2 separate regions of the Homo sapiens genome follow, and region 2 is linked to region 1. Evidence: fine-mapped expression QTL. Tissue or cell type: whole blood. Region 1 holds a variant in brackets; the other region holds the start of a gene. All regions are shown on one strand. Distances are between the middles of the regions.

The links. PIP is the estimated chance that this variant, and not a neighbour inherited with it, causes the effect.
Region 2: it holds the start of SPATA6L, and the variant in region 1 is fine-mapped to the expression of SPATA6L in whole blood (TOPMed, PIP 0.98).

The regions. Positions count from the first base shown.
Region 1 is chr9:4,597,627-4,601,982 of GRCh38, forward strand. SPATA6L (spermatogenesis associated 6 like) reads right to left here. Exons shown (of 12, transcript NM_001353486.2): 12 at 690-3,183. Among named protein-coding and RNA genes, the nearest start is that of PLPP6, 62 kb to the right of the region's middle. The variant C/T (reference allele first, on the strand shown) is at 2,647.
Region 2 is chr9:4,664,617-4,668,794 of GRCh38, forward strand. SPATA6L (spermatogenesis associated 6 like) reads right to left here and starts at 1,864. Exons shown (of 12, transcript NM_001353486.2): 1 at 1,596-1,864. The coding sequence starts at 1,634. It overlaps PLPP6 (phospholipid phosphatase 6), which reads left to right. Exons shown (of 1, transcript NM_203453.5): 1 at 1-642. RefSeq lists silencers at 1,653-1,702, 1,713-1,792.

The DNA of each region.
Region 1 (4,356 bases):
GGTGCCCCTAGATTCAGTGTGGAGGATGGGGCTCCCAGGCCAAAGGAGCAAAGGGTTGGGGCTCTCATCACTGTTGGCAGGGTTCCCAGCACAAGGGAAGAGAGAAGAGGTCTCCCTAAGACCTGCAGGTCCGCTAAGTAGTGCTAGGAGGGGTCCCCTAACCAGAGAAAGACAGCAGTCCCATCCGGTGGTACTAGTGGGTTCTCTGGTCACAGCATGGACTACAGAGCATATCCTGTTCCTCAGGCTGCCCTCCAGAGAGCCCAGCGGGCTCCTTTGATGGACCAACTCAGGGGAGTACTGGCTATACTGAGAGTAGCCTGGCATTTGGGTGCTAGGGCTGAACTCACACACATACCCATCAGTCTTCTCAAATTACACCTAAAACCCGCCACCTCTTTTATGTCAAACATATCATTTGCACTCTCATTTTTTAAAAATCTCTTTTATAATTCATGGCCTACAGGCTTCAGCTAACTTTGGGTCAGTCAGGTGACCACAGAGAACTGGCCTCATTGTACAGCAGCTTTTGTTTGGAGGGCCTAGGTTCCACAAAGGAGATTTTCTTAGGAGCCTCTGCAAACCAAGACCCCATGAAACATGCCCATAAAATATGCTCCAGGCTTTGACAGATCTGCAACCATAAAAATCAAGAAAGGAATTATAAACTGAAGCAAGACAGATGGGAATTCTTTTTATGATGTTTAATGACACAGATCTTCCCAAAGTAATCCAAACCCCAAAACATCACAAAATTATTCATACTATTATACACTCCAAAAGCAAAATACTTCAACTGCAATCCTTGCCCCAGCATGATTCCTCAAAATTGAGATAACTCCTTGAGAAACAAAAGTAAAAATAATAATAATTTAAGGAATAGAGTTAATAGATGCAAAAGTAAAGGGAAAAAAAGCGTAATTTAGTGTGAAAACCAAAAATGACTTTAAATAAGAATGGGCATTTAAGATCTTATTAAAGAGTTATGCTTAAACCATTTCAAAAAACACTGAATATTGAATGTCATGGTGTATATTTTAACAATAACTGAAATGGGATACCAATTCATTAGTGCTGCTTTCCTTTAGCTGCTTACGTAAGCAGCCCTCTCCTGAGACTTATAGCGTAACCTTAATGTAACACAATATTTTCTTACTTTTGATGACTACTTAGAGGTAACATCAAAACAACAAATTGACAACCATAGTTTCAGAGAGACTGAGAACATATTAGCATATGTAATTTAAGCTTGCTGTTGGCCTTGCCAAGGTGGAATGCTGGTTGTGATACAGGTTGAGTCTCCCTTATCTTCAGTGCTTGGGACTGACCAGAAGTATTTTAAACTTGGGTTTTGGTTTTTGTTTTTGTATTTTGGAATATTTACATAAACACAATGAAGTATCTTCAGGATAGGGGATAGGACCCAAGTCTAAACACGAAATTCATTTACGTTTTATATACACTTTATACAGGTAGCCTGAAGGTAATTTTATACATGATTTTAAATAATTTGGAGCATGAAACAAAGTTTCGAATGCATTTGACTGCACCCTGCCACATGCAGTCAGATGTGGAATTTTTCACTTATGGTGTTATATTGGTGCTCAAAAAGTTTTGGATTTTGGAGCATTTCAGATTTCAGATTTTTAGATTGGGAGGTTCAACTTGGATATACCTTTATTTGGCTGAAATTCTAAGAAGAGGATAAATGAATTTTGTTTTGTTGTTTTTGTTTTTGGAGTTCCTTTTCTGTTTTAATTTTTAATTTCATTTTCTTAATTTACCTAATGAACCAATCCCTATGATTACAGTGAGAAAAGAAAACTTGGCTCTCACTGAATCTTCTAAAAACTGAACAAGTTTTAGGGTAGTGTCTTACTCTATTCAGGCTGCTATAACAAAATGTCATAAACTGGGTAGCTTACAAACTACAGGAATTCATTTCTCACAGTTCTGGAAGCTGGGAAGTCCAAGATCAGAATGTTGGCAGATGCAGAATCTGGTGAGGGCCCTCTTCCTGGGTCAGAGATGGCGCCTTCTCGCTGTCTCCTCGCCAGTGGAAGGGGCAAACGAGCTCCCTTGAGCCTATTTATAGGGCACTAATCTCATTTATGAGGGGTCCACCCTCACAACCTCATCACCTCCCAAAAGGCCCCATTTCCTTAGAGGTTAGGATTTCAACATACAAATGTTGAGGGGACACAAACATTCACACTATAGTAGGGCTGGTAGAGGAAAATGCTATGCTTACACTATGAAGGAGGGAAATAAGTTTCCATTTTCAGGCCCCTCTTCTCTGGGTCTGTATCAATGAAGACAAATGTGCCTCTAGTCTCCCTTTATCCCAGCCCCTTCCTATTCCTGCTCCCTCACACTGTGTAAGCATTTCATAGATGCACCTTCCTAACTAACTTTAAAACCTGGCATTGGCAGTCCTATCTGTAGAACCTATTTACTTAATGTGTAGTTCTTTTGGAGAAATATTTGAGGAAGGTTTTGTTCCTCATCTAAATTTACAAAGAATTGCTGGAACGAAGGAGTAGGAAACAGAAGGAGCAGTTTAAACTACGCTCCAGAGGAGCCAGCCTCCTCTTACAAATTTATCACAGACATTCAACATCTAAAACAAGATCTGAACTACCCAGA[C/T]GTAATGCTCTCTTTTCCAAGGTTTTTAGTGGACTTCACGTAAATCAAGCCTAACACTAAGAAATAAACAAACAACAACAAAAACGGATCTACCGAAAAGAGAAAGTCAGGTTGATAGTCTTTCCTGGAGGATTTATCAGGTTATTCCTGTGAATAGCAACTTCCTCTAGCTCATATATAATTAATTTGAGAGAGAGAGACAGAGAGAGCCAGAGAGAGCCAGAGAGAGAGAGAGGGGAAGTGTTCAGATAAGCACCTGCCACCCAACTACAGCGCTTTCTCTTTCATGTTCAAAACAAACATGCAAAAACACAAATTTTCCAGCTTGACAAGAAAATGTTAGCCCCCAAACAGCAAACACTTTAATCAACAACTCTTACCTGGGCACAAAAGACTGAGTACAGGGTTTGGTTTAAAGGGGATTAGACATCAGTGACTCAACACAGACAACAAAAAGTGTTCATTTCTTTAAGGATGCTTCAATTGTCTCAGTGAGTGAGCTCTTCATGATTCTCCTTAAGCTTTCATTAATTTCCCCTGCAAAATTTGAAACATCACATTCTACATGTGGTATTGAGAAAAAGGCAAACAATCAATACAAGTAAGGAGAAAAAGATAATGTCATACTACCCCAATCTTGGCATGTAGCTATGCCTTGGGATCACTTAGTCTCTGAGCTTTTTCCCCAGATTCCCACAACAGAATAACCCAGTGAGCATCTGTGTGACCTTGGACAATTTACTTGACGTCTTTGTAAAATATCAGGATGATGACAGAGTATCTACCTCTTACTATTATAGTGAAGAGTTAGCATTGCTACATAGTAAATGTGCCAAAATAGGTGTTATTCAGTTGAGCTGTTAAACGTGTTCCAATTAACTATATTCTACTGAACAAATTTCCTTCCTTCCTTCCCTTCCCTCCTTCCTCCCTTCCTTCCTTCCCTCCCTCACTCCCTTCTTTCTTCCTTTCTTTCCTTTCTTTTTGATGGAGTCTTGCTCTGTAATTTGGCACTGCACACTGGGGGCCGGGATTTCACGGCAATTATGCCTTCCAAGAGAACTAGGGATAATCTGAGGGGTTTCTTTACGGGAGGTTTTTTTTTTTGTTTGGTTTTTTGGATGTTTGGTTTTTGTGTGGTAAAATTCACCAATTTTAAATATACAAGGGATACTCTGTTTATACCAAAAGTACCAAGTCCCAAAAGATCCAGAAATAGATGTATTCCAACCCCTTCAACCCATTTCTTCCACCCATTCTCTCCCTCTACGTGGTCAGACAATGGGACTCATTGTTTTTGGCTCAAGAATCCCTGACCTTTTTGTGGTAAGAATCTACTTTTTCATCTCCCTGAGATCTCGAGATCGCTGGGGAGCCAGGACCTGGCAGTGAAACAGATATGGAGAAGGGGAGGGACAGGAATTGGTGCTGCCATTAGAAGAGAGTCCTCAAGAAAAGCCGGGACTGGGACACGTAGTGGGAGCCACTGGGTTGTGTGTGGGGGATGCCTCCTGCCTGGGGTCTGTCCTCCCAACCCACAGGAGTGGCTCTGGCTGTCCTGTTCTAGCTATTTGATCTTGCCTGTTTGGATCTTTCCTGGACTCACTGAGATGGATGCTCAGCATCTTTCAAATAAATGCCCCGTTTGCTTAAGACTAGCCAGAGTCACTTGGGTTTTTCACAATCACTAAAGCTTCACTAAAATGACCC
Region 2 (4,178 bases), 67 kb after region 1:
ACCTGAAAAGAAATCCTTTAAATTACCTATGGAAGTGATGTCCTCAGATAATCTTAATGACTATTTTGGCATTTATAAATAGAAATGATTATGGACTTTGATCTGCCATACGGAGGTTCGGAACCTGGAGAACGGCTGTGATAAGTAGGTTTTGATTGAGTGAAAGCATGAGCTTGTTCAGAGTGAGGGGCATAGTGAAAAAGGAACAGCCATGCCTCAAAATCAAATCATTTGCATTCCCACAGCATCCTGAATACCGACTACCTCTTCACTTGCTAAAGCAGCTAAACTGTGAAGCTCTAAGTGGTTTGGGTTTGTTGTTTAACCTTAGCGAGATCCTTTAACTGCAGCAATATTCAAGCCAGATATTTGGAAGCAAATGATATTTCCTCTTGCAGTGTCCACAAATCTGAATATTAGGGGCATGAAATTAGGCTTACCATCTGATTTGTAATTACAATTTTGGAATTCTCTGTTTTAGTTGCTGAGGCCTGAGTTTTCTGGCTCTTAAAGCATAGATCATTTCACCTGATGTTTTTGAAGCATCCTAAGTACAGTAGAGTAGAAAACTGATTTCTTTGTTAATTGTACACTGAATAATGCCTTTTAAAAATCAAAATAAAATTAACAAATAATGGTGAATGAAGTGAGATGAAAACTTGCTTAATTTTTGCCTTGATGAGGAGGGAGACAGATTTATCACTTAGCTTCTCAAGAGTTCCTTCTTCCTGCACAATTTTTAGAGCTTAAAACTGGTATAGCACTACTAATAAGGTCTAGCCCTATTTGCTGTCAGCAAAGTGGGACAAATCCAGGAAATGTTGATCACCTTTCACACCCACATGTATGATGAAACCACACCATTTGCCAATTGTATGGAAGACAACCAGATTCCATGACAATTTCCTGTTAGCACTGTGCTTGTAATCATAGCCAGTAGAAAAGCCCCTAGAGGAAAAGCGGCATGATATTCTGTTACTAACTACATGGAAGGATTGGAAAATGGAAACTGAAATAAGAGGGAGTGACAGACCCCCAAGTAGAAACCATGGAGTCACTCTGCCACAGCACTTCACTTAGGAAGGATTTGGTAATTACGAAATAGTGATTGATTGATTTCCCTTTTGGAATTAGCAAGCCAGAGCTATCACTAAGGGGAAATATCATAGAAAATATCTGATTGGTTCATAGAGTTGGCAAATAATCAGGAAGTGATGGAGCTTTTTAAAATTATTCCCTGGTTATTTAAAGAAGTTGAAAATCCTTTCACAAATCTTTATCCAGGAGAAGAAAATAAATTCTACCTGGACTTAATGCAGGGTTGTTTGAAAAGAAATTAAAAATTCATGATAAAGATAAGAAACATGTTAGCTTTAGAACAGAAAAAAAAAAAAGTGGGAACAGGTGGAGCTGAATTAAAGGTTAGGAAGTCAGGGAAAACCAATATGGAGAAAAAGACAAAGGTGCGATCTGTCCCAGAAGATAATGATGTGTTTGTGGTAAGTGGGGGATGTGGGGGAGGGTTGTTGAAAACCACCTGAGACTATTTAGAGTCCGACTTGAGGTTAAGGAGGGGGAGTTCATCGATCTCTTACCGCCCGGATCTGCAGCTCCACCACCACCTCCAGAGGCATCGTTCCCTGCGTGGGCGAAAGGACTGGAATGAGAAGATCCTTTTGTGCCGAGCCTTGGACCAATTTTTCTTAGTTTAGCTGAATACCTAGAGCAAATGTTCCCAGAAGCTTCCCCAGTCCCACGCCCTTGTTCCCCTACCGTCCCCCCCAGCCCAGGTCCCTCCCACCGGGACGGGTCTCTCACACTCGAAGCTGGAGTGCAGGCTTCCAGAAGGCGGAAGCGTGGCGTTGCCAGGGACACTCAAACGCGCAGTCTTCATCGTGGAACGCGCGCGAGGCCCCAGCGCAGACGCGCGCCCTCACGGTCGCTGTTGCCCACGCAGTGCCCCCAGCCGGAGAGACTGGCCCTGTCTGGCGTGCTAGACGGATAGAGAAATGCTAACAATCCCGATCTTCTTTCCATCAGCTCCTGCTATCCCCAATTACCATGTCAGAATGTTTACCGTTTTCATTCTGAAAGTAGAATGAGATCATAGGTCTGTTATAATTTAAATAGTACACGTTTAGTAGCTGCACGACCCCAAGCCTTGTAGTTTCTGTAACAATTCTCATTTAATATAGTTGCCTGTTCCTAAAAATACTCTTTTGCTTATTAAATGTTATGTTTGCTTCGGAAAACATGGCCACCGTCAATAACAAACGTGTGCTAATTAGAAATATAAGGTTAATTCTTAAACATATTTAAAAGTTAGGTATCCCCTGTTAGCAGCAATAGAAATATGTCAGTCTTTCCATAACGGTGTCCAGCCTTTTCTGGGGTTTAGTTTAAGGCAAGCATTGAGTAGTCCAATGGGTAGTTATTGCATTTGCCAAAACCACAGTTACTGTAAACACTGTCAGAGGTGGTGCGCAGAGCAAGAGTTCTGAATGAGTAGGGGACATTCACTACATCTAATAGAGAAAAATGAAGGAAAGGAGCAGGTAGTGGCTCCTTCTAGCAATCCAAAAAATCTAGGAAGGCCAATGCTGCCTCTGAAAAAAAAATTTTAAATCCTAAATTATGTTCAGTCATTTATTACTAATATTTTGCATTAGAGAGTTATACAATTGGAAATAGTGCAGAAGGATGGTCAAGACAAGATTGGGTATTCATTTTGGTAACTGGAGTTTATTTCCCTGGAAGGGAAAAACTTGGTATGATGAAGAAGGGCATATTGTATCCTTATCCAGTTCCTAGTGCTGTGTCTCTCTGCATATCAAGAGATACAGGTGGGCACCTAACTATCTATAGTGTCCAGATCATTGATTTGTCACTCACAACTTGCTGACACCCAGAGTGATGTGGGACAGGACCTGTGATGATCCTAACAGGTAGGTCACCAACACCAATGCTAAGAAATCAAGGAGAGTGACAAGCAAAACAAATTAATAAATAGCCAGAGTTGTATTGGGAGAGAAGAATCAGTCTTTACTGAGGATCTGCAAAGTGCTAGGCACATTGCGTATGCTAATTCATCTCAACCCTACAATAACTCTATCAGGGAGATATTATCCCTATTTTACAGATGCAGAATCTGAAGCTAGACAGCCTTTTACTAAAAGCCACAGACCTAATAAGGGAGCAGCCACATTTGAATCCAGGTGTGCCCTACCACATCACTGGGTCTGCAATATAGACATCCTGTTGATCTCTAGAGACACAATGTTCCATTCTATGCTCTTCTTAGTCTTAACTCTTGATCTAACTGGACTCTCCTTGCTTGGCTGCTAGGGCACAGCTCTCTTCTGGTTTCCCTCCAACTTTCTGGCTATTCTTTCTTTGTCTGTTTATCCTCCTCTGGCTAAGCAATGTTTCTAGGTCCTTTCCTTTCCTCACTCTATACCCTTTACTTAGAGTGTCATCCATTGCAGACATTGATTAACACATGTATACAGATTTACATACCCCACCAAGACCTCTCTTCTGCTGACAAGGTGGAATCTCAATATCATATCTTATGTCATACATATAAATATATATATCTCCTCTTTGTAGCGACTGCCATAATAGCAGTTTTACATTTGTTCCTGTGACTCTTGATTACTATTTGTCTCCTTAATCTGTAAACTCTGCATGGCTAAGCGTTTATACCCTAAATAGGATAGAAGATAATAAATATTTTTGAATATTAAATGCAGAGATGGTCAAGCCAATCTGTGGGGGTTAATGTACATGGATAAAGAGAGGTCCCATCACAATGGGTAAAAGAAATCTGCAGAATTAGAAAGGACCAGGCACAGCTACTTCTGCAAATCTGCTATGGTGATATTAAATGAGTTGATGGGGATACTTCACACTCTCCTAATTGTCCCCGCCATGGTTACCTGAGGCTCTCAGCTGCTGTGGAGATGTGGCAGTTGCTATACACACCCAGTCCCTCTCACTCATCTTGCAAAGTTATTTATCATTGAGGCTGTCCACCTCTGCCGGGGGCCAACAAAGCCTTTTAAGGATTGGACTGTCACCACTTCAAGAGAAAGCCTTTATTACCTGGGTAGGTACCTCTTGGTGGCAGCAAACAGATTTCAATGAACAACTGCTATTTCCAGAGAGTATCTGCAGTG